Regions from separate parts of the Homo sapiens genome. Here region 1 is linked to region 2. The links come from fine-mapping of genetic effects on gene expression. A gene starts in region 2. The other region holds a variant in brackets. All regions are shown on one strand. Distances are from middle to middle.

What was found.
Region 1: its variant is fine-mapped to the expression of CLIP3 in whole blood (INTERVAL, PIP above 0.99).

Annotation. Positions count from the first base shown.
Region 1 is chr19:36,094,012-36,104,547 of GRCh38, reverse strand. WDR62 (WD repeat domain 62) reads right to left here. Exons shown (of 32, transcript NM_001083961.2): 20 at 10,384-10,517; 21 at 7,469-7,521; 22 at 4,931-5,149; 23 at 3,673-3,800; 24 at 3,231-3,334; 25 at 2,774-2,884; 26 at 2,397-2,534; 27 at 1,697-1,811; 28 at 1,474-1,600; 29 at 1,341-1,392; 30 at 567-1,205; 31 at 1-30. Among named protein-coding and RNA genes, the nearest start is that of OVOL3, 12 kb to the left of the region's middle. RefSeq lists an enhancer at 3,440-3,941. The variant T/C (reference allele first, on the strand shown) is at 4,034.
Region 2 is chr19:36,024,858-36,040,201 of GRCh38, reverse strand. It overlaps CLIP3 (CAP-Gly domain containing linker protein 3), which reads left to right and starts at 7,329. Exons shown (of 14, transcript NM_015526.3): 1 at 7,329-7,478; 2 at 7,787-8,010; 3 at 12,931-13,070; 4 at 13,157-13,250; 5 at 13,455-13,616; 6 at 13,937-14,055. The coding sequence starts at 7,845. It overlaps THAP8 (THAP domain containing 8), which reads left to right. Exons shown (of 4, transcript NM_152658.3): 2 at 66-258; 3 at 484-879; 4 at 4,610-5,218. The coding sequence ends at 4,762. The region is part of intron 3 of LOC101927572 (a long non-coding RNA gene); the gene reads right to left. RefSeq lists a silencer at 4,430-4,603.

The DNA.
Region 1 (10,536 bases), 67 kb before region 2:
CAGGGCTGCCCTGTAACAGACCAAGTGCACCTGGGGTAGAGAGAAGGGAATGAGCAAGATGAGCTGCATTCCATTGGTGTGAGCGGCCAGAGCGACTGGGTGGACTCCATGCTGTACTTCTGTCTGGAACACTTCTCTGGGTCCCCAAGGCTCCCTCCCCTTCACTCCTACAGGTCTCTGCTCCAATGCAGCCTCCTCCCTGAAGCCTCTTCTTATCTTCTGGTTTGTAATCCCAACCCCTGTCCCCACCCTGCACTCCCTCGCCCTCCTCTGTCCCTCCTAAGCATGTGTCACTTCGTGATACATATGACGGGTTCCTTAAAGGTTTAGTCTGGGCATTGTCCCCATTGAAGCTGTCAGTTCTCTGTGTTGTTTACCACCATGTCCCATGTCCCAGGGTTTAGCACAAAGCCCAACATGTAATGCTCATTAAATATTTAAGTTAATGCACGAATGAATGAATGGCACAGTCCCTGTGGCCAGGTCAAGTATCCATCTTTGGAGCTGAGCCAACTAGCACACAGGATGAGCTTAGGGGACAGTCCTTGCTCCAGGGCTGTACTCACCGGAGGTGGGCTCCAGGAGGGAGGCAGTGCCGCCAGGGATGCCAGGCCGGGCCTCTGGAAGCTGGGGGTTACTGGGGTGGGCAGGAAGGCCAGGGGACTCAGGAGCTGGGAGACTTGGGCGAAAGGCAGAGCCGTGGAGCCTCAGGGCGCTCTCTTCCACAGGGCTAGGGGCTGGGAAGCTCACTGCAGGGACGGTGACGCCAGGCTGGGTATCCACGGGGGGCTGCAGGAGCCCATCACAGGCACTTGACAGGGTCAGTCTCAGGTTGGCCCGGGCCTCGTGGTTGCCCCAGGAACGCAGGGCAGGCTCTTGGCCCTCACTGTCCAAACTGGGTGTTGTCGCGGTGGTGATGGCCTGAAGCTCCTGGCCCAAGGAGGCCAGCTCCCCAACGGACGATGGCCTACGGAGGGGCTGGGCCAGTGTGGCCACGATAGGGCCCTCACTGTCACCGAGGGAGATGCTGCGTGATATCCTGGCACGGGAGCTGGCAGTGGCCTCCATGTAGGAACAGGTGGAGGGGGCATGGACACCCTGAGCCAGGCCTGGGGTGGGTGCAGATGTGGGCGTTGGGAGATTCCTGTCTGTGGGCAGCACGGAGGAAGCAGGGACACAGGACGCCAGGCTCGTAAGGCAGGGAGCTGTAACGGAAGCAGATGGCACTGACTCCACCACACAGAACTGATGGCTAGGGCCCCCACGCCCCACAGCTAGGCTGGACATCCGGCCACTCGCCGAGAAACCCAGGACTGTCCGTCTGGGACTGGGGCACTCACGTGGTGGGCGCCAGGCCTCCAGGGTCTCTTCAGCCTTCCCTGCAGCGAGGACCTGCAGGCACAGCTCTGAGGTGAGGACAAGGCCTCAGGGTTCCCAGCCCCGTGCCCTGACGGAGGTGGGCCCAATACTCACGTGGGTCCTGTCTGGGGAGGCGTAGCCAGTACCTGCTCTGGGCTGGCTTCCGCCTCGGTCCATGAGCTTGACCTCTGGAGACTTCACAAGGCACTGGGTTGCCCGGGGAGGGAAGGTATGGGTGAACCTGTGGGGAGGAGAGCAGGGGGGATGATTCTCATTCAGCCTGCCCTGGGGCACTGTTGAGGAGCCAGAGGGTGGGCAGTGCTTGGCCAGCTTCTACCTGGATGCCTTCTGGAGGCTTGAGAGGAACTGCGTGGAGATACTCAGGCGTGGGTTGAAGAAGTGGTCTTCAGCTTCAGAGGCCTCCACGTCTCCCAGAGCTGCGGGGAAGAGCTCTAGGGGAAGATCCCGAGGGGACCCTCATAACCCTTCCCGCCGAGCAGCCCTGGCCCTAGGCCAGCCCACAGCCCAGCGGGGCACTCCCCAGAAACCCTTATGTACAGACACAGGGTACGAGCAGGGGCAGTGGGTGAGGAGGCATCGTGAGGCTCAGGTCAAGAGTGAAGCAGTGGGCCGGGCACGGTGGCTCACGCCTGTAATCCCAGCACTTTGGGAGGCCAAGGCGGGCAGATCATCTGAGGCAGGAGTTTGAGACCAGTCTGGCCAACATGGTGAAACCTCATCTCTACTAAAAATACAAAAAATTAGCAGGGCGTGGTTGTGGATGCCTATAATCCCAGCTACTCAGGAGGCTGAGGCAGGAGAATTGCTTGAACCAGGGAGTCGGAGGTTGCAGTGAGCCAAGATTGGGCCACCGCACTCCAGCCTGGCAACAGAGCGAGACTCCGTCTCAAAAAAAACGAAGCAGTTGCTCTCCACTCACCCTCCTGGCCCTGCTGGGGAGCCAACTCCAGGGACGCCAATGCTGTGCCCAGGCTGCACAGACGGCCTCGGCAGGTGTGGGTGAGGCAGGGCCCTACCTCTGCAGGGGGACTCAGTCAGTGTCTCAAAGTGGTGGCGGAGGAACTTCTCCTGCTCCGGAGTCTGGGGTAGGGAGCTGCTGGGGACGCTGGGTCCCTCGGGCAGGGACAGCTCATCTTCTGTGGGACCTGCGCATCCTGACAGGGAAGGAGGGGAGGGACAAGAGGAGCCAACACCATGAGTCACAGCAGACGCCACCTGAAATGGAGAAAGCGGGCCCCACCCATCCCTGCCCTGTTGCCCGCAGGCTGAGAAGCAGGGATCCCCGTCTTCCAGGCTCAGTGGGCTCCAAGTGCAGGGCCTGTGCTTAGACATTGTGACTGGCCCTAAGCCAGGCCCGAGCAGCGAGTCCCCTGCGTGTCTGGCCCCTGCTTACCTGGGAAATGGGGCAGCGACGTGGCAAACCGAGGGGCAGGGTCAGGAGGCGGAGCTGGGGAGTGGATGGCTGCGAAGCTGCACTCCAGGTCGGCCTCTGACTCCCCCGAGTCTGAAGGACAGAGTCGGGGTCAGGAGCCCACAGCCTGACCATTCTGGTGAGCCAGGGCCAGGGCTACCCTTCCCTGGGCTCAGTTTCCCCATCTGGAGGAGGGATGGTAAGAGCAGCTGCCCCCCATTTTATGAATAAGGGAAGTTCCACATCAAGGAGGTGGCAGAGCTGGGCTCTCAGCTGTAGGCAGCTGGGCCCAGAATCCTCAGGCAGCAGCAGGGACCACATGTGTCTTCCTCGACAGACTCTGAGCTTCAGTACTGGGTCAAAGTCACCATCGGTGCCCAGAAAGGGGCTTGGCTGAACGCACAGACTGTCACAGGGTCCCTGCCTGCCCTGCACTCACCCTCAGGCGGGCTCTGGTCCTTTGGGCTGTCGGAGGACACCCTGAGGTAGGAGTCGCCCTGCTGGTCTCCAGGCCCGGCCTCCACCTCCTTCCTGCAATACTGGCTGCAGTGCCAGTGGGGGCAGAGAGGGAACAAGGACTTCAGCTGGAGACTCAACAGCTAGCCCCACCCGGAGCCCCTAGGCACCTGTACCCGCTGCTCCTGCAGGAGCACTGCGACAGCCTCCCCGCCTCCTCCAAATGCCCCCTCCTTCCCCCAGGTCAGGCCCTCCTGTACCCCACCTGGAACCAGGGAACTAAGGCTGGGCTCCTGCCCCATCCAGGCCTCAACTGTCCCCACTCCCACAAGCCCACTGGGAAGGCAGAGAGCACTTCTTCCAGGATGCAGCTATCAGCTGGGGGTTCCTCCAACTAAGGCTCCCTTGGTGGAAAGGACACCCACCTGTCTGTCCCTGTGACTGTCACTTCTGCCTCCAGAGAGTAGAGGATGAGCTCACTGGCCTCAGATGATTCCTTCTGCTGGGGCAGGAAGGAGGGGTGCCCGCGGCCAGCTTCCTGGGGACTCTCTGACTATGGGGAAGACAGCACAGCCATTCTGAGGCAGGCATGGCTGGGGCCACCAACAGTGCGCCAGGAACCATGCCAGCAGCCCCACTGCTGGAGGCTGTGAACCAGGGCCTGTGCCATGCCCTCCACTCGCAACCAGCTTGTCCTGGTCTGCCCCTGCATTATCAGTCCCTTTACAGATGAGGAAGAGGTGTGGCACCAAAAATAGGAGGCCCAACCCTCTACGTGTCTATTTA[T/C]ATCAAGTTCAAGAATAGGAAACCCAGTCCTTGGTGAGAGGTCAGAACACTGGTTATCCTGGTGCGGGGACCTGACTGGGAAGGGCAGAAGGGGGTTTCTATGAGGTAGAAAACACTCCAGATTTTGCCCAGGGTAGTGGACACACGTGAATTACACAGATAGTTCATCAAGCTGTATACCTAAAATCTGTGCATGTTACTGGATGTATATTATACCACAATGAAGATGACAAATTATAGGATAGGATAAAAATGAATTTTGTTTGGAAAATAGTAGAGAAAGAGCTAAAGTTGCACGGGCACCTCTAAGAGCCCAGGCCCTATACTTAAGCATGGATTCCTGTAAAAGCCCTCTGGGGCAGAAGAGATTGTTATTACCATTTAAAAACAAAACAAACAAAAAAATTTAAAAAATATTTTTGTAGAGGTGGGATCTTGCTACGTTGCCTAGGCTGGCCTTGAACTCCTCAAGTGATCGTTAAGTAATCCTCCTGCCTTGGCCTCCCCAAATGCTGGGATTACAGGTGTTAGCCACTGCCCCTGACCCCATTATGACTACTTTTTAGAAGACTGAAGCCCAAAGAGGTAAGCCTCTTACTCCAGGTCACACAACAGGAATGGGTAGGGTCAGGGCTCGATCTACCCAAATGTCCCCCACTTGGGTACAAGCCTGCTCTAGCATCCAAGCTCTTAACCCCCAAGTGACCCACTTTCCAAAGACTCCCTGTCTGCCTTGGGAAGTCTTGCTGTGCAACAGACCTGGGGCTCACCCTCCTGCCCTTCACCATCTCATGTAATCCTCCCTGCCCCCATGGAGTGGGAGTCAGCCTAAGGCGCCAGGCCCTGGGGCCGTCACGGTGCCGGGGCTATGGGCCAGGCTGCGGTGGAAGTGTGTACCTCACTCAGCAGGCTGGCCAGGCTCTGTGGCTCCAGTGAATCCAGAATGGAGTTCTCCAGACTCTCGGGCTTCATGGGGGTAAAGTAGCAATCCAGGTCCTGGGCATCCAGGATGGTCTTGAGGGGCTCTTGGCCGGCCCGCTCTGCCCAGCGGCCGTGGGGCTGGTAGCTGCGCTTGGCGTGGAAGGCCAAGCCATCTGCCACATCATCGTCCCCTAGCTTGAAGGATATCGGACAGTCAGGCAACTGGCTGAGTGCTCACTCACTGCAGGGAGCGACACGGACATTTCACACAGCCCATCTGGACTCTTGGCTTTCAATACCATTCAGAAACAACTTCCAGGTACATATCTCCAGCGTGAACCTTTCTCTGTTTTTTTTTTTTTTTTTTTTTTTGAGACGAAGTCTTGCTCTGTCTCCCAGGCTGGAGTGCAGTGGCGTGACCTTGGCTCACTGCAACCTCCACCTCTCAGTTTCAAGCAATTCTCCTGTCTCAGCCTCCAGAGTAGCTGGGATTACAGGTGCCCACCACCACACCTGGCTAATTTTTGTATTTTTAGTAGAGATGGGGTTTTGCCATGTTGGCCAGGCTGGTCTCAAACTGCTGACCTCAAGTGATCCGCCCGCCTCGGCTTCCCAAAGTACTGGGATTACAGGCATGAGCCACTGCGCCCAGCCCATTTTGTTGGTTTTTGGTAGAGGTGGACTCTCACTATGTTGCTCAGGCTGGTCTCAAACCCTTGGGCTCAAGGAATCCTGTTTCGGCCTCCCAAAGTGCTGGGAATGCCCAGCTGGGATTCATGAACTTTTCTCTGAAACTTCAGAATTGCACATGTGACTGCTCTACATTTCTGTATGGATGTCTGGTAGGTATTTCAAAGTTAACATGCTGACAACTCAACTCATTTCCTCTGCACAAACCTGCTCCTCCTAAAGATTCCCTGTTTCAGTTGTTTTTTCCAGTTACTCATGCCCCAACCTTGGGATCATCCTTCATTCACCTCTCTTATTCTGTCTCTTATAATCCACATTGTCTTTCTTTTTTTTTTTTTTTGAGAGGGAGTCTCACTCTGTCGCCAGGCTGGAGTGCAGTGGCATGATTTCGGTTCACTGTAACCTCTGCCTCCTGGGTTCAAGTGATTCTCCTGCCTCAGCCTTACCAGTAGTTGGGACTATAGGCATGCACCACCATGCCCAGCTAATTTTTGTATTTTTAGTAGAGACGGGGTTTTACCATGTTGACCGGGATGATCTTGATCTCTTGACCTTGGATTACACCCGCCTTGGCCTCCCAAAGTGCTGGGATTACAGGCGTGAGCCACCGCACCCGGTCTCTTTTTCTTTTTTTTTTTTTAAGAGACAAGGTCTCGTTCTGCCATCCAAGCTGGAGTGCAGTAGCACGATCACTGCAGCCTCCAACTCCTGGGCTGAAGTGATCCTCCTGCCTCAGGCTCCTGAGTAGCTGGGACTATGGGTGTGCACCACCATGCCTGGCTATTTTTAATCTTTTGTAGAGATGGGAGTCTCATTATGTTGCCTAAGCTGGTCTCGAGCTCCTGGCCTCGTGGCTTTTACACGTATAGGCTGTTATGACTAGAACATTCGTCCCAGTATCTGCCTGTCTCACTTGCTTCAACTCTGCTCAAACATCATTTTCCCAATGAGGCCTTTCCTGTTTACTTAAAACTGACACCCCCCAACACTCCTTATTTTCTTTTTTATTTTTATTTTTTTTATGAGACAAAGTGTTGGCTCTGTTGCTCATGCTGGAGTGCTGTGGAGTGCAGCTCCCTGCATCCTCGACCTCCCTGGCCCAAACAATCCTCCCACTTCAGCCTCCTGAGTACCTGGGACTACAGGTATGCACCACCATGCCTGGCTAATTTTTTTATTTTTTGTAGAGATGGGGTCTCACTATATTGCTCAGGCTGGTCTTGAACTCCTGGGCTCAAGTGATCAACCTGCCTTGGCCTCCCAAAGTGCTGGGATCACAGGCATGAACCACCGTGCTGGGCCCCTGTTCTTTTTCTCTTTTTTGAGACAGGATCTCACTCTGTTGCCCACGCTGGAGTGTAGTAGTGGTGCCTTCTCAGTTCCCTACAGCCTCAACCTCCTGGGCTCAAGTGATCCTCCCACTTCAGCCTCCTGAGTAGCTGGGACCACAGACACGTATCACTGCACCTGGCTGACGTATTTTCCTTCTTGATTCTTTTCCCTCCACAGCACTTATCAGCACCCAACCTACTACGTCATTTACTTATTTAATGGGGATATTGTTCCTCGCCCACACAGGCAAGTGAGCCTGTGAAGGGAGAGACTTTTGTTTCCCTTGCTCACTGTTGTGTCCCTGACATCCAGAACAATGCCTGGCAGAGAGCACTGATCATGAACAAAGGGCTGTCTCACTGAGCCTGGAAGGATGACAGGGCTTCTCCAGGGAAAAGAGGGACATGGAAAGGAAAAAGGGCTTCCAGAAGGCAGAGCTGGGGAGGCGTTTCCTCTGCCAGCCCCTGAGCAACCCTCTCCCTGAAGACTTACCAGCCGCTTTGCCCACAGTGGCAGCTTGCCGTTGGTTAGCAGGCAACGAGGATCTGGAAAGACACAGAATCCATGAAAAGAGGACAAACAACCCAACAAACAGGCCACATACATAACCGGGCAGTCCCCAAAGAGGCAACACCACAACCCAGAAGTCAGAAGGCTCAACAGCACCGGGGGTTAGGGAAATGCAAACTTAAACCGTGGGATGCGATATTTGACTCACGAGACTGACCGAGGTGAAAAAGCTTAATACTACCAAAGGATGGCAGGAAAAGTGTGGGGACAATGGAGAGCCTAATGCAATGCAGGGTGGGGCAGTAACTGGGTTTGGAGAACTCTTGGGGTTCTCTTTTTTTTTCTTTTTTTGAGACGGAGTCTCGCTCTGTTGCCCAGGCTGGAGTGCAGTGGCGCGATCTCGGCTCACTGCAACCTCCACCTCCCGGGTTCATGCCATTCTCCTGCCTCAGCCTCCCAAGTAGCTGGGACTACAGGTGCCCGCCACCATGCCCGGCTAATTTTTTTTTTTTGTATTTTTAGTAGAGACGGGGTTTCACCATGTTAGCCAGGATGGTCTCGATCTCCTGAACTCGTGATCCGCTCGCCTCGGCCTCCCAAAGTGCTGGGATTACAGGTGTGAGCCACTGCGCCCAGCCGGGGTTCTCTTTTAAAATAAAGGCCAGGCATACTGGCTCAAGCCTGTAATCCCACCACTTTGAGAGGTCGAGGTGGGAGGATACTTCAGGCCAGGGGTTTGAGACCAGCCTGGGCAACACAGTGAGACCTTGTCTCTACACACACCATCCCCTGATACACACATATTTAGCTGGGTGTGGGAGCTTGAGCCTGTGGTCCCAGCTACTCCACAGGCTAAGGAGGGAAAATTGCTTGAGCCCAGGAGGTCAAGGCTACAGTGAGCTATGATTGTGCTATTGAACTCCAGCCTGGGCAACAAAAATAGTGAAATAAAATAATAAAACAACTTTTTTAAAGTAAAATAAAATAACTCCAGGATCCAGTGGTGCTACTCCTCAGACTCTCTCCTGGAGAAGTCCTCACATTTCGAGGAGGCTTAGGAGTGGTCTCCACTCCATAGCCTCATTAACAGTGATGTGCAATCAGGAAAAACCTAAATGGCCACCTGGAGGGGAATAACTTAAAATTTCGCAGGCGTCTGCTTTGTATTCACCAACATACAGGTAGATGAGAGACTTTGCAGAGGAAAAAGATTCCGGACAATATCCGCAACATAATTCAATTTATTTTTACTTGTTCATTTATTTTTTGAGACGGAGTCTTGCTTTGTCACCCAGGCTGGAGTGCAGTGGCGCAGTCTCAGCTCACTGCAACCTCCGTCTCCCAGGTTCAAGCAATTCTCCTGTCTCAGCTTCCCAAGTAGCTGCTATTACAGGCGCACGCCATCACGCCCAGCTAATTTTTGTATTTTTAGCAGACATGGGGTTTCACCATGTTGGCCAGGCTGGTCTCGAACTCCTGACCTCAGGTGATCCACCCGCCTCGGCCTCCCTGAGTGCTGGGATTACAGGCGTGAGCTACCACACCCGGCCTCAAACACATCTTTGATGCCTGGTCAGGTGGTGTGAGTGGATGGAGCTGACTACAGTCTCTGCCCTCAGAAGTGATCACATGCTGAGATGTGGACAGCTACAACAACTGGCTCAGAAGTGGGTACAGCAGATACCAGAAACATGAGCCACACAACCCTAAGACTCTGCTTGAGCTACTATAGGAAAGAGGTGTTCTATTCTCTATGGAGTTTTATAAGCCTGTAGTTGCTGGGGGTATCTTTTCCCCTAGTAAAGGGACAGTCTGTCCATCAGCAAAGCCAACATGAAGAAAAGCAGAGCCAAAAGATACAAAAAAAAATCTTCCTTTTAACATCATCTGTCTATCTGGATCTAGCCATGCTGAAAGCTAATCCTCTCCAATTTTCAGGCACCAAAAAATCCTCTTCCTGACTTAAGCCTGGTTGCTTTTATACTGAAAGAGTCTTGACTGATATGATTATTGAGTTTCTTTCTTTTTCTACAGACAGGATCTCACTCTATTATTCAGGCTGGAGTGCAGTGGTGCAATCATAGCTCATTATAACATGGAATTCCTGGGCTCAAGCGATCTTCCTGCCTCAGCCTTTCAGGTAGCTGGGACTATAGGTGTGCACCACCAGGCCTGGCTAATTTTTTTCTTTTTGTAGGAACGGGGTCTTGGTACGTGCCAGGCTGGTCTCAAACTCCTGGCCTCAAGTGATCCTCCTGCCTCAGCCTCCCATGTAGTTGGGACTACAGATGTGTGCCACTATGCCTGGCTAATTTCTTTAAAAAATTTTTTTTTTGCATAGATGGGCTCTCGCTATGTTGCCCAGGCTGGTCTCGACCTCCTGGCCTCAAGTGACCCTCCCATTTCAGCCTCCCAAAGTGCTAAAATTCCAGGTGTGAGCCACCACGCTAAGCCTGATTACTGAATTTTATTTATTTTATTTATATTATTATTATTATTATTATTTTTGAGACGGAGTCTTGCTCTGTTGCCCAGGCTGGAGTGCAGTGGCGCGATCTCAGCTCACTGCAACCTCTGCCTCCCAGGTTCAAGCAATTTTCCTGTCTCAGCCTCCCTAGTAGCTAGGACTATAGTTGCACGCCACCACGCCCGGCTAATTTTTGTATTTTTAGTTGAGACGGGGTTTCACCATATTGGTCAGGCTGGTCTCCAACTCCTGACCTCAGGTGATCCACCCACCTCGGCCTCCCAAAGTGCTGGGATTACAGGTATCAGCCACCGCACCCTGTCGACTCCTGAGTTTTAATATGTGCCAGGCCCTGTAAACAAGGTCATGGGCAAAACCCAGCAATGATTCCCTACACTGACATAGTTCAAAATAGGGCCCCTTTTCCAACCTGGATCCAAGCTATCTTTGGATGGTGTCTTCAGCATCTCTTCTGGCTCACACTCTTCCTCCAGATCATCCTCTGTTTGCTCTCCAGGGCTCAGGGAGTGAATCTCACTAGGTGTGGACACATACGTATCCTGCCTAAAGCCAGGAATGAGGA
Region 2 (15,344 bases):
TATCCTCTGGGAGGGATAAGTCTGAACCTCGTAGCACTGACCCAGCCCCCCAACCACCCATGCAGGTTCCCACTGAAGGATGGTCCCCGGCTGCAGGCCTGGCTGCAGCACATGGGCTGTGAGCACTGGGTGCCCAGCTGCCACCAGCACTTGTGCAGCGAGCACTTCACACCCTCCTGCTTCCAGTGGCGCTGGGGTGTGCGCTACCTGCGGCCTGATGCAGTGCCCTCCATCTTCTCCCGGGGACCACCTGCCAAGGTGAGCGCTGGGAGGTCCTGCTGCTGGAATCCAACCCCCAGACCTCCCTGCCTAAGGGAAGTCCCTCCTTGAGTCTGAACTTTGGCCCTCCCCTCCTGACGACACTTCCTCCCTGAGGTCTGGCCTTACCTAGGCAAGTCCCCCTTGGAAACAGACCCTCCATCCCTTTCCTCCTGAGTCGAAGTCTGACCACGGCACCCCTGCACCCCATGCCTTGTCTTCCAGAGTCAGCGGAGGACCCGAAGCACCCAGAAGCCAGTCTCGCCGCCGCCTCCCCTACAGAAGAATACACCCCTGCCCCAGAGCCCTGCCATCCCAGTCTCTGGCCCAGTGCGCCTAGTGGTGCTGGGCCCCACATCGGGGAGCCCCAAGACTGTGGCCACCATGCTCCTGACCCCCCTGGCCCCTGCGCCAACTCCTGAGCGGTCACAACCTGAAGTCCCTGCCCAACAGGCCCAGACCGGGCTGGGCCCAGTGCTGGGAGCACTGCAACGCCGGGTGCGGAGGCTGCAACGGTGCCAGGAGCGGCACCAGGCGCAGCTGCAGGCCCTGGAACGGCTGGCACAGCAGCTACACGGGGAGAGCCTGCTGGCACGGGCACGCCGGGGTCTGCAGCGCCTGGTGAGTGGCACCCCAGCCTGGCAGCCCCATCCATGGGTGGTGGCCTGGCCTGCAGTGTGTTTTCATTTTGTCTAGGATCCCCTATTCAAAAATCAGAACATTCAGCCGTGTTTCCAAATTTCTGGCTTTCCCGGGCTCAGTGGCTCACGCCTGTAATCCCAACACTTTGGGAGGCCAAGGCAGGAGGATTGCTGGAGGCCAGGAGTTCGAGACCAGCCTGGGCAACATAGCAAGCACTGTCTCTACAGAAAATTAAAACAAATTTCTAGGTTTTCCTGAAAAACAAAATCTGGCAATGCCAAGCAACTATTGGTTGGAGCTGAGTAATGATTGCTCCATTTACTAATACTAAATACTTAATATTTGAGAAGCTCTTATTGTCTGCCAGACACAGAGTTATAACATAGTGAGCTGAAAACTCACTATGACCCTTTGAGCTGGAGCTACAGGGTTAATTTTTTTTTTTTTTTTTGAGACGGAGTCTCGCTCTGTTGCCCAGGCTGGAGTGCAGTAGTGCAATCTCGGCTCACTGCAGCCTCTGCCTCCCAGGTTCAAGCGATTGTCCTGCCTCAGCCTCCCAAGTAGCTGGGACTACAGGTGCCCGCCACCACGCTCAGCTAATTTTTTGTATTTTTAGTACAGACAGGGTTTCACCGTGTTAGCCAGGATGGTCTCGATCTCCTCACCTCGTGATCCACCTGCCTTGGCGTCCCAAAATGCTGGTATTACAGGAGTGAGCCACCATGCCTGACTGCTACAAGGTTAATTTTTAAAAAATGCAGTGGCTCACATCTGTAATCCTAGCACTTTGGGAGGCCAAGGTGGGCAGATCGCTTGAACCTAGGAGTTCAAGACCAGCCTGGACAACATGGTAAGACTGTCTCACTAAAACACAAAAATTAGCATTGTGGTGGGCACATGTGGTCCCAGCTACTTGGGAGCCTGAGGCAGGAAGATCCCTTGAGCCCAGGAAGCAGAGACTGCAGTGAGCCAAGATCGCACCACTGCACTCTAGCCCGGGTGACCAAGCAAGGTCTCAAAAAAAACCAAAAACCACAACCAAACAAAAAACTCACTATGGTCTGTGTGCGGTGGCTCATGCCCGTAATCCCAGCACTTTGGGAGACCAAGGCAGGCAGATTGCTTGAGTTCGGGAGTTTGAAACCAGCCTGGGTAACATAGAGAAACCCTGTCTCTACTAAAAATACAAAAATTAGTTGGGCATGGTGGCGCACCTGTAATCCCAGCTACTTGGGAGGCTAAGGTGTGAGAATTGCTTGAACCCTGGAGGTGGAGGTTGCAGTAAGCCGAGATGGCACCACTGCACTCAAGCCTGGGCAACAGAGCGAGACGCCATCTCAAAAACAAAAACAAAAACAAAAAAAGGCCGGGTGTGGTGGCTCATGCCTATAACCTCAGCACTTTGGGAGGCTGAGGTGGGCAGATCACGAGGTCAGGAGTTCGAGACCAGCCTGGCCAACATGGTGAAACTCCATCTCTACTAAACATACAAAAAGTAGCCGGACGTGGTGGCACACGTCTGTAATCCCAGCTACTCGGGAGGCTGAGGGAGGAAAATTGCTTGAACCTGGGAAGCAGAGGTTGCAGTGAGCCGAGATTGTGCCATTGCACTCCAGCGTAGGCGACAAGAGCAACACTCCATCTCAAAAAACAAACAAAAAAAACCTCATTATAATCTTAATACTGCTGTTGTCTCTATCTTCCAGATGAAAAAATGGAGGCACAGAGCAGTCCAGTAGTGTGCCCACAGTCAGGCAGCCAACATGTTTCAGGGCCAGGATTCAAACCCAGGTGTCTGGCTGCAGAAGAGGCCTGTGAGAGCTTCCTGCCTGGCCCCTATAGAGCTGGAGTTTGCAATCTCTGTAATAGTGTCCCCCAGGCCCTATCTGAATCCCTTTTGCCTCTATATTTTACTGCTGGGTGTGTGTGTGTGTGTGTGTGTGTGTGTGTGTGTGTGTAGGGGAGGAATTTGAGGAAGGTGTTTGTGTGTGTGTGTGTGTGTAGGGGAGGAAGCTGAGGAAGGTGTGTGTGTGTGTGTGTGTGTGTGTGTGTGTGTGTAGGGGAGGAAGTTGAGGAAGGGTGTTATGTCTCTGTGTGTGGGGTGGCGGGGGAGGAAGATGAGGAATGGTGTTATGTCTCTGAAAATCACAGTTTGACCAAGGCGAAATTTCTCCTGTCTTAAAACCCTAGGGCCAAGCTTGAGGTGCCCAGCTTAGCCCCCATGGCTTTCAGAGCCCTGCTTGTATGAGAGAGATGCCCACACAGAGCTCTGAATGCTAGACTCACTGAAGGGGCTCAGGAAGGAGCCCCCACAGTACCTCTGGAGTTAAGGAGTATCCGATTTTTTTTTTTTTTTTTTTTGAGAAGGAGTCTTGCTCTGTTGCCCAGGCTGGAGTGGAGTGGTGCGATCTCAGCTCACTGCAACCTCTGCCTCTCTGGTTCAAGCGATTCTCCTGTCTCAGCCTCCCAAGTAGCTGGGATTACAGGCACGTGCCACCATGCCCAGCTAAGTTTTGTGTTTGTAGTAGAGACGGGGTTTTGCCATGTTGGCCAGGCTGGTCTTGAGCTCCTGACCTCAGGTAATCAGCCCACCTCGGCCTCCTATAGTGCTGGGATTACAGGTATGAGCCACCATGCCCAGCCAGGAGTCTCAGATTGATAGTCAGTGGTTTGGACATGACCCACAGATACAATTTGTTTGGCCTCCGCAGTGCTTTAAAATAATTTATAATGGCCGAGTGCAGTGGCTCACACCTGTAATCCCAGCACTTTGGGAGGCTGAAGCAGGTAGATGACTTGAGCCCAGGAGTTTGAGACCAGACTGGGCAACATGGTGAAACCCTGTCTCTACAAGAAACACAAAAAATTAGCCAAGTGTTGCACCTATAGTTCTAGCTATTTGAGAGGCTGAAGTGGGAGTATTGCTTGAGTCCAGAAGGTCAAGGCTTTAATGAACTGTGATTGTGCTACTGCACTCCAGCCTGGGTGACACTGTGAGACTCTGTCTCAAAAAAAAAAAAAAAAAAAAAGTCTGGTCTTTCCTGAAGGCTCTGCATATCTAGCAGCACTGGGCTTGGATTCTCAGGTGATAGCAGTTGGCTGGAGCTACAGTGTGGCTGCCTCTGGGGCCTTGAAGTTTGAGACTGTGGCCTGGGGCACAGAGGGACAGTGGGGCAGGGACAGAGCTCAGACTCGGGCCTGGGGCTCTTTGTGGAGCCTGCCAGATCCCCTGAGCTGACTGCCTCTCTCTGCCTCCCCTCCTGTCATTCAATCTCTGTCTCCTACTCATCTATCCCTACCTCCCAATCTCCTCCCTCCCCAACATTCATTGTCTTTCTGCCCATCATCTCTGTCCGCCACCTGTTTCCCCACCTCCCTGTGTCTCTCTTTATCTGCATATTTTCTGTCTCCCCCATATCTCTGACCCTGTCTGTACGTCTGTCTGCCTGCACATCTCTTTCCCCCACGTGTCTGCGTCTGTGCCCCCGCACTTCTCTTCCCATTTCCCCACCCTTCTTTCCTTTCCCATGAATGTCTCTCTGGCCCTCACATCTGCTTTCCTGTCTCCTCATATCTCTCCCCACATCTCTCTCTGTTTCCTGACACGCCCTCCTGCCACCTTTGCCTCCCTGTTCCTCACCGTTATCTGTCTGTCTCTCCCGCAACTTGCTTCGTAATGTTCCCCATCTCTACCACTTCTTTGCCTTAGACAACAGCCCAGACCCTTGGACCTGAGGAATCCCAAACCTTCACCATCATCTGTGGAGGGCCTGACATAGCCATGGTCCTTGCCCAGGACCCTGCACCTGCCACAGTGGATGCCAAGCCGGAGCTCCTGGACACTCGGATCCCCAGTGCATAAGGATCAAGACAGACAATGTCGAGGGACAAAAGATAGAAGATGGAGGAGGAAAGACATTATACGTGGGCTTGGCCCAGCCCCACCGCCCACGCCTGGGTAGTAGCAGTGCCTCCCTCAAGGGCCTGGGTTCTACCACCCCACTCCTAGGGATCTCTTGAACCTTAGGGGTGACCTGGGCCCAAGTCTCTCATCAGCCCCCAATCCCCTGGGTACCAGGCTTCTGCCACCCCCGGCTCAGATCTTTGCAAATCAGTACGACAGCCTCAGAGCAGAGCAAGGGTTGTTTGGGAGAATCATACCTGGTTCTAAGGAGTCCCACGCTTTTTGCCAAGCCTGGTACTGAGTTCATGATACCATGGTGGACACAGCTGAGAAAATCCCTGCCCTCATGGTGCTCATTCTACTTGAGTAGACGATGAACTAGTAAACAAATAAACAAGAACACTGCAGACATGAGCGATGAGTGCTATAAAGACAACAAAAATTTGGTTTGGGCCTGGGGGAGGGCCCTCCAAGGCCATGTTTTAGCAGAAACCTGGGTGATCAGAAGGGGCTGGCCTGGAGCGCTACAGGCTCAGGTTCCAGAGGACGAACAACCCCTGCAGTGAGGGCCTGCTGTCTGGGATGTGTCAGGTCTGGGAGGCGGTGTTGCTATGGAGAAAACCATAGTAGGGAAGGGAGGAAGGGGTGCAGTTTTAGAGCAGAGAAGGTGAAAAGACACCAACAAGTAAGATCCTAAAACAGGGCAGAGAGGGAGCCACGTAGGGATTTGGAGGAAGAGCATTCCGGGCATCACAAAGAGCCGTTGCAGGCCAGGCACGGTGGCTCACGCCTGTCGTCCCAGCACTTTGGGAAGCTGAGGCAGGCAGATAACCTAAGGTCAGGAGTTTGAGACCAGCCTGGCCAACATGGCGAAACCCCGTCCCTACTAAAAATACAAAAATTAGCTGGGTGTGGTGGCACAGGCCTGTAATCCCAGCTACTCGGGAGGCTGAGGCAGGAGAATCACTTGAACCTGGAAGACAGAGGTTGCAGTGAGCAGAGATCATGCCACTCCACTCCAGCCTGGGGAACAGTGAGACTGCCATCTCAAAAAAAAAAAAAAAAAAGAGCCAGTGCAAAGGTCCTGGGGTAGGGAGAAGCAAGGAGGCCAGTGTGGCTGGGGTGGAGTGAACAAAAGAGGGTGAGAGGAGGTGAGTGCAGAGATGATGGGGCAGGTTCACATAGGCCCTTGTGGGCCATGGCTGAGAGCCTTGGCTTCTACCTGGAGTGAGGTGCAGCAGGCAGACCCCTCTGAGGGAAAGAGGGCTCCAAAGTGACAGGTGTTCATGGGTCCCTGTGGCTGCATGTTGGAGGAGGACGGGGACAGCAGGTAAGAGGCTGCTGCCGTAGTGCTGGTGGCAGAAGAAGAAGGATGGACCAAGATGAGGGCCCAGGGTAGCGGTGGGGAGAGTGAGATCCTGGAAATCTTTTGGAGATGGAGCTACTGGACCTGTGCATTAGAAGGATGAGGTGTTCAAGGCTGTCACCCAGCCCCATCCAGGCTGGGATGATTTGAGGCAGAGCAGGCTACAGCTCCAGGTGGGAAGCCAAGCCATGACAATGGAGCCAGGACCCTGGGCTGGCTTCAGGAGGCCTCCGTGGGGAAGATACAGGTTCTGAGAGAGTTGGAGGGGTCAATCGGCAGATCTGTTTCCCAGACACTGCTACAGGCATGTAGCATGGTGATTAAGAATCAAAGCTGGGCATGGTGACTCGTGCCTGTAATCTCAGCGCTTTGGGTGGCAGGGGCAGGAGGATCCCTTGAGGTCAGGAGTTCAAGACCAGCCTGGGCAACATGGCAAAACCCTGTCTCAAAAAAAATTCTCCAGACATGGTGGCATGCACGTGTGGTCTCGGCTACTCGGGAGGTTGAGGTGGGAGGATGGCTTGAGCCCAGAAGTTTGACGCTGCAGTGAGCCAAGATCACAACACTGCACAGTAGCCTGGGTGACAGAGTGAGACCCTGTCTAGGAAATAATAAAAATAAAAATCAGACTTTACAGACTGTCTGGTTTCAAATGTTCGCTCCATCACCTACTCATGTACTTTTGGGCAAGCTGCTTAACCTCTGGGCCCCAGTGTGTGAGCCTCGCATTATGATGGTAAGGATGAGATGATCATGATAGGAGTCTCTAGGAAATCACCCCTCTGAGGCACCCATTATGAATGGTGAGCTTGGAGAAGGGGTCCGGTCTAGGGTCCTAGAGAGAGGGTCCCCTAGAGGGTCCCCATCGTCACCACGCCCCAAGACCACTGCCCTCACCGGCCTGGTTTGCAGGCGTGGGGGAAGGGGATGGAGAAGATCTGTGTCCGCTCTCTCAGCCCTCTCTTTTGCCGTTGTATCTGCTCATCTCGCTCCTTTCCGTAGCCATCTCTTCCTCTCCCAGTGCCCGGAGGCTCTCCCCTTTCAGTCGCCGCCTCTGGCCCCTCCATCAATGCGAGCGCCTCCCGGTCCCTCCTCCTGGTCCCTCCTCCCCCGCCGCCGGTAGGGGGGCAGCAGGCGCATGCGCAGTCGCGCCCCTCCCTCTCCGCCCCCACCCCCTGTCGGCGTCTGGGCCTCGTCCCCTTCTCTCTGTCTCCCTTGCCTCCCCCATCACGTCCCCTGACACCGACACCCCATTGCTCCCACAGTCTCCCCAGTCTCCACTTTGGTCCCCAGCGCTGTCTGCCCGAGGTAAGATGGGGAGGGGGCGGCCCGCGGAGAAGGGGAGGGGCGAAGCATCCTGAATCCCGAGATAAACAAACCCGGGGAGGGGGCAGCCGCGACTGAGGGGCCTGACGCGGGAGGAGAAGAATGGGGGGCTGGGCCTGGGGGAGGTGGCAGGCGCTGGGCGCACACACCGGGGCCCTCTATGGGTAACGGGGGTCCCTATGGTTGCCCAAGATCCAGTTGCGCGGAGGCCACCCGGGGCCCTGGAAGCTCCTAGGGGCTTGGACCCTGGAGCCTGCCGGGCACCCTCTCCAGCTGACCTCTGCCTCCAGGATTTGCCTGAAGGCTGCCCCCAACTCTGCACCCGCCCCCCGAGGGCCACCGAGGACCATGACTAAGACAGATCCTGCCCCGATGGCCCCGCCACCCCGAGGAGAGGAGGAAGAAGAGGAGGAGGAGGATGAACCCGTCCCCGAGGCCCCCAGCCCCACCCAGGAGCGCCGGCAGAAGCCTGTTGTGCACCCCTCGGCACCTGCCCCCCTCCCTAAGGACTACGGTAACCACTGTCCCCACCCTGGAATCTGGCCTGGAGCGTTGGGTGGCCGGGGAGGGTGGGCTGTGCTCTGCTGGTGGTGATGGTGGGAGAATTCTGGGGAATTTGAAGGTGGTCCAGAGGAATCTTGGCTGCAGAGCACCCCTCGTTAATTCATTCATTCACCCATTGGAGAATGGAATTGTAATACTCCTAGTCTTTGACTCATGACACATCATTCCATCATTTAGTCATTCAACAATCATTTTTTGAAAGCGGCTGTGGACCTGGCTTTATGCTAGGGGCTGGGGCCACAGCAGGGGGCAAGAGAGACCCAGTCTTTGCCCTGAGACAACTCACAGGCCTCAGTAACAGCCACACAAATAGGTATTAAACCATAATGTAATTTTTCACATTTAGGTTTATATGCAAGAAAGAAAAATATAATGTAATATAAATATGTAATTACAAGACATTATGAAAATTGTATTTACCATAAACAAGCTGCTGCAAGAGTTTTTTAAGACATTGTTTCCCTGAGGAGGTTACAGTTGAGAAGACTGGAGGGTGAGTTGGGGTTAACTAAGAGAAGGGTCAGGGGAAAGGGCTCCCAGGAGAGGTAACCGCTGGGTAAAGGATCTGAGGTAGGAGGGTATGGAGCTGAGAGGGCGGCCTCTTGGAGAAACTGAAAGTGTCTAATCATTGACCGAGCGATATTTATCGAGTGCTGCTACTCTGTGACAAGCCTTATGCTGGGTGCCGGAGATTTAATCCTAAGTGATCCAGGCATGATCCTCCCTTGCAGGAGAGAAGGAGAGACTAAACAAGTGAACAGATAAATAAATCAGAAATCAGATAAATTCAGATTGGAGCAAGTGCTATGAAAGAAAGAAAAGGTGGGCTGGGCATGGTGTCTCACGCCTGTAATCCCAGCACTTTGGGAGGCTGAGGCCAGCGGATCACCTGAGGTCAGGAGTTTGAGACCAGCCATGGCCAACATGGTGAAACCCCATCTCTACTAAAAATACAAAAATTGGCTGGGTATAGTGGCATATGTCTGTAATCCCAGCCACTCGGGAGGCTGAGGCAGTAGAATCGCTTGAACCTGGGAGGCAGAGGTTGCCCAAGATCGAGCCACTACACTCCAGCCTGAGTGACAGAGTAAGACTGTCTCAAAAAAAAAAAAAAAAAAGAAAAAAAAAAAAAAGAAAAGAAAAAAAGAAAAAAGAAAAAGAAATTAAAGGTGGAGATACGATAATGACTAGGGGGCAGCTACCTGCAGGGGTAGTCAGGGCTGCTCTTTCTGAGTAGGTAACATTTAGTTTGGGACCCAGAGCATGGGGAGGAATCAGCCATAAGAGAGCTGGAAAAAGAGTGTTCCAGGCAGACAGCAGCAAGTGCAAAGGCCCTGAGGCAGAATTGAACTTGGAACAGAAAGATCCTGGAGCTGCATTCAGGGAATGATCGAGGTTGAGGTGAGAGGTTGGCATAGGCCAGATCTGGAAGGGCCTTCAAGGCTACAGTGAGGACTTTGGTTATATTCTAAGTGGGACAGGGGAGAAGAGTGGCAAGGGGAGGGTGTTTAAGAGCAGAGGAGTGGCAGGTCTGATTTGTAGTTTGAAAGCTCCCTCTGGGTACTGGGTAGAAGGGGATGGAGTGCAGCCAGAGTTGGATGTAGGAGGGGAATTTGGAAGATATGCAGGCTGGGAATCCCCGGCAGCTGTGAGGTTCAGAAACCAGGTTCAGAGAGTCAGCGTTGCCAGGATAGAGCAAGACAGATGGCATCCATGGACATGTCACCCACTAGAGGTAGATCAGGGAGACTACAAGTTGACTTCAGTCTAATAGAAAAATAAGAAAGTTGGCTAGGCACAGTGGTTCTGGCTTATAATCCTAGCACTCTAGGAGGCCAAGGTGGGAGGATTGCTTGAGGCCAGGAGTTCGAGATCAGCCTGGGCAATGGAGCAAGACCCCATCTGTACAGAAAATTTAGAAATTAGCCAGGCATGGTGGGTACCTGTAGTCCCAGCTACTCCAGAGGCTGAGGTGGGAGGATCACTTGAGCCTGAGAATTCGATGCTGCAGTAAGCTAGGATTGCACCACTGCACTCCAGCTTGGGTGACACAGTGAGACCCTGTCTCAAAAAAAGAAAAAAGTAAAAGGAAGTTATCTGGGGCCTGAGGTCGGGGGGGTGCTGTACCTCAGAAAACTGGAAAATCTCCTTTGGAAATGCAGCTGGAGGTGGCTGGGGCCTCTGACTCAGTGGGAGGTCGGAGGGTATAGGCTGAGCCCTCCAAGCAGTCTTGCTTGTAGAGCGGGAGAGGTTTTGTCCCAGAATGTGAAGAAATCTGGAAATGTGGTCGAGGACAGGGAGAAGGCTAAGGTGGACTCCAAGAGGAAATCATGTATCTGTTAAATTTGTACATTAATTCAACAGAGATTGACTGAGCACCTACTGTGTGCCATGTGCTGTGCCTGGCCTTGGGGATAAAGGAGTGAATGAGGCAGAATAGAATCATAGCATTTAGATCCTAGTGAGGGAAGAAGAGAGGAAATGAAGGAGGGAGAAAGAGGAGTAAACATGTCAAGTAGTGATATGAGCTATGATAAAAATAAATAAATAAATAAAGGGCTGGGCATGGTGGCTCACACCTGTAATTTCAGTGCTTTGGGAAGCCAAAGTGGGAGGATCACTTGAGCCCAGGAGTTCGAGACCAGCCTGGGCAACATAGCAAAACGTTGTCACTACAAAAAAAAAAAAAATTGCTGGGCATGGTGATGTATACTGTAGTCCTAGCTACCAGGGAGGCTGAAGCAGGAGGATCACTTGAACCCAGGAGTTCAAGGCTGTAGTGAGCTATGATCATACTATTGCATTCCAACAGACCCTATTTTTTTTTTTTTTTTTGAGACGGACTCCAGGCTGGAGTGCAATGGTGCAATCTTGGCCCACTGCAACCTCTGCCTTCCGAGTTCAAGCGATTCTCCTGCCTCAGCCTCCTGAGTAGCTGGGATTACAGGCACTCACCACCACGCCCAGTTAATTTTTGTATTTTTAGTAGAGATGGAGTTTCACCATGTTGGTCAGGCTGGTCTCGAACTGCTGACCTCATGATCTGCCAGCCTTGGCCTCCCAAAGTGCTGGGATTCCAGGCGTGAGCCACCATGCCCAGCCAAGACCCTATCTCTAAAAAAAAAAAAAAAAAAAAAAAAAAAAAGAGTAGGAGATGGAGAAGGGCGGGTGCCGATTTAGACAGTGTGGTTTGGGAAGGCCTCTCTGAGGAGATGACATTTGAGCAAAGATTTATAAAGCTTTGTGAAGATGTGTGGGAAGTCTATCCTGAGTGAGAAGAACAGCAAGTGCCAAGACCCTGAGACAAGAATTTGCTTGGCACGTGGGAGGGACAGAGGGAGCCCAGTGTGGGAAATGAGGGAAGGGGAATAAGTGAGGGGAGAGGGCTGAGAACTGAGGGGCTGGATGTGCAGAGCCCTGAGGGCCGTGGGGAAGACTTTGGTCTGTACTCTGGATGGGTTGGGAGCTGGAGGAGGGTTCTAAGCCAAGAAGGGCTATGATGTGACTGCAGTTCTAAAAGGAGCATGCCGGCTGATTCCTGGAGACACCTTCTATGTGGCACTTCCCTGGGCTGTGTATAATCTGATCATTCATGTAGTCGTTCATTCACCACGCACTGAGTTCCTGCCACGTGCCAGGGCCCTGTGCTGGGTGCTGACGTCACAGAGAGCAGTACTCCTTAGAGTCGAGTGGGAAGAGACAGAAGTGCCTCTAGGCACCACCCTGGCTGGGCACAGGTTGATTCCTGCTCATGGATACATTTTATTTTATTTTCATTTTTATTTATTTATTTACTTTTTTTGAGATGGAGTCTCACTCTCTGTCACCCAGGCTGGAGTGCAGCGGCGCCATCTCAGCTCACTGCAGCCTTTGCCTCCTGAGTTCAAGTGATTCTCCTGCCTCAGCCTCCCGAGCAGCTGGGATTACCGGCGCCCACCACCACGCCTGGCTAATTTTTGTATTTTTGGTAGAGTCAGGGTTTCACCACGTTGGACCAGGCTGGTCTCGAACTCCTGACCTGAGGTGATCCGCCCGCCCCGGCCTCCAAAAGTGCTGGGATTACAGGCGTGAGCCACCGCGCACAGCCTCTATTTTTATTTTTTATATTTCCAGAGTCAGGGTCTTGCTCTGTTGCCCAGGCTGGCGTGTAGTGGCACAATCATGGCTCACTGCAGCCTTGAACTCCTGGGCTCAAGCAATCCTCCTGTCTCAATCTCCTTGAGTAGCACCAATGCGCACCACCACACCTGGCTAATTTTAAAACTTTTTGTAAAGACAGGGGTCTTGCTATGTTGCCCAGGCTGGTCTTGAACTTATGGGCTCAAGCAATCCTCCTGCCTCAGCCTCCCAACGCATTGGGATTACAGATGTGAACCACTGTGCCCAGTCATGGATACATTTGATGTGGACTGCATGGTATTTGAAACAATTGAGAGAGTTTTATTAAAAACCAGGACTTCTGGCTTTATTTATTTTTGCTCTGGAGATTCAGCCAAACTTCACTCATACTCTCACAGGGCAACAGTGGGTGAGGTCAGTAGCAGTCCCCCTGGACATGCAGACTCCAAGGTACTGCACTCTCTGTCAGGCTTTTGTTTCAGGGGGTGGAGTTTGCTGCTATATGGGAATTGCCTGATCTTCCAACTTTTCAAGACACACTGGGCATCGAGATTTTTATGTGAACCCACCTGAGTTTGAAACCTCATGCTGGCCACACAGAAAATGCCTGTGGGTTGACTGTGGCCCATGTGCCACCAGCTTGAGACCCTGCATTAGAGGCTCTAAAAGGCAAAGACCTACAGCTCCCCTACTGAGGCTGGAAGGAGGGGGTCAGTTGCGTGGGGTGACCTTGGACCTCTTGCCACCCCAGCTTTCACCTTCTTCGATCCCAATGACCCGGCGTGCCAGGAGATCCTGTTTGACCCTCAGACCACCATCCCCGAGCTGTTTGCCATTGTGCGCCAGTGGGTGCCCCAAGTCCAGCACAAGATAGACGTCATCGGCAATGAGGTGAGAACACTGGGGAAACCAGGGGGAGAGGGGATGCGGTTCCCCACATGTGTGGGTGACCCTCCCTGCTCCCCTGGTACTCACAGATTCTGCGCCGAGGCTGCCATGTGAACGATCGTGACGGGCTGACCGACATGACACTGCTCCACTATGCGTGCAAAGCTGGGGCCCACGGAGTCGGTGAGGGCCCCCTACCCCCAAGTCATAAGCCCCAAAGCCTAGGCCCCCAGACCCAACACGCTGAAAACCACCCAGAACTCAGGCCCCATCTGGAACCCGAAGCTTCGGATCCCAAAGTATAGTCCCTGAAGCCCAGGGTCCTCCCCGTGCACTGGGCCCATGCTCTGGAATGGGGGTTCCAAGCTGACCCGGCCTATCGCGCAGGGGACCCCGCGGCAGCCGTGCGCCTCTCGCAGCAGCTGCTGGCGCTGGGCGCAGATGTGACGCTGCGCAGCCGCTGGACCAACATGAACGCGCTTCACTACGCGGCCTATTTTGATGTGCCCGACCTCGTGCGTGTGCTGCTGAAGGGTGCGAGGCCGCGAGGTGAGGAGGAGAGCCCTGGCTGGGAGGGGGCAAGGACCTGGGTGAGGGACGCGGAGACCCAGGTGAGGCCAGGCTGCGAGGGGAAGGAGGACGGTGATCTGAGGAGATAGCGGGAGGTTGGAGGCGTGGGAGAGGGGGCTCAGGGACTACCACTCTAGGGAGGGTCGGGGCTGCCAAGGGAGAGGGGGGCTCCGAGGTGGGGGCGGGGCTCTGCGTCGGAGGCTCTGGGACCTGCAAGTTAAGAGATGAGCCCCGAGGTGGGAGGAGGGCTGGGGTCCCACAGGCGCTCACCCGGAACCCCTCCTCTTGCCCACTTCCAGTGGTGAACTCCACGTGCAGTGACTTCAACCACGGCTCAGCCCTGCACATCGCTGCTTCCAGCCTGTGCCTGGGCGCCGCCAAATGTTTGCTGGAGCACGGCGCCAACCCTGCGCTGAGGGTACTGCCACCCTTGCCCAGAACCCGTTACCCTCCTGCTCCCTTCCTCCCCCACTTCCCTCCAGCAGGTCTCTGCGTTTCCCGTGACTCCCCAAATACTACAAATGCCGTCTGTACATTCAGCAAATGCAATAACAGCTGAAATATGCCTAGTGTTCATTACATGTCAGGTGAAGTCTATTATAAGCCTTGTTTTACAATGGGGAAACTGAGGCAGAGATTAAGGGATCTGCCCAGGGTCATCCAGCCTATCCCATGGCAGTGCATAACAGCATTTCAAGGTCATGAGGAAAGTTGGGCTAGGCCTTCTGTGAATGAGAGGGTTGGTCCTCTCCTAAGCCCTCAATATGATCTTTGACCTCTGACCTATGCATTACCAGGCTCCATCCACAATGCTAATTACCCTGCAGCCGTCCAGGCACATGTATGTTGGGGTAACATGGCCTGTGCCCCTGAGACCCTGCCTCTCCCCATTTTCCACTGGCCCAGAGTTTGACTCCTGACTCTATACCACAGGAGCCCACTCTCACTCTCTCTAATTTTTTTTTTTTTTTTTTGAGACAGAGACTGGCTCTGTCATCCAGGCTGGAGTGCAGTGGTGCAATCTCGGCTCACTGCAACCTCTGCCTACCAGGTTCAAACGATTCTCCTGCCTCAGCCTCCCGAGTAGGTAGAATTATAGGCATGCGCCACCACACCCGGCTAATTTTTGTATTTTTAGTAGAGATGGAGTTTCACCATGTTGGCCAGGCTGGTCTCGAGCTCCTGACCTCAGGTGATCTGCCCACCTCGGCCTCACAAATTGCTAGGATTATAAGCATAAGCCACTGCACCCAGCCCACAGGAGCCCATTCTCAATGTTCATCTCCCACATGTCCTCATTACAGGCTTGGGGTCTCCAGAGATTGCCTCCCTGAGGGCGTGACCTACAGCACTGAAGTGTGGCCCTCATCCCTACTGCCTACACCCCCAGGCCCACCCTCAATTACTTGACACACCCCCAGCCCTGGGTCTCAGGGGTGGGTTTCCCTGGGGATGTGGTCTGCACCTTTCTGCCCTGCCCCTTCTTTTTTTTTTTTTTTGAGACGGAGTCTCGCTCTGTCACCCAGGCTGGAGTGCAGTAGCATGATCTTGGCTCACTGCAACCTCTGCTTCCCGGATTCAAGCGATTCTCCTGCCTCAGCCTCCCGAGTAGCTGGGATTACAGGCACACGCCACCACACCCGGCTAATTTTTGTATTTTTAGTACAGACGAGGTTTCACCATGTTGGCCAGGCTGGTCTTGAACTC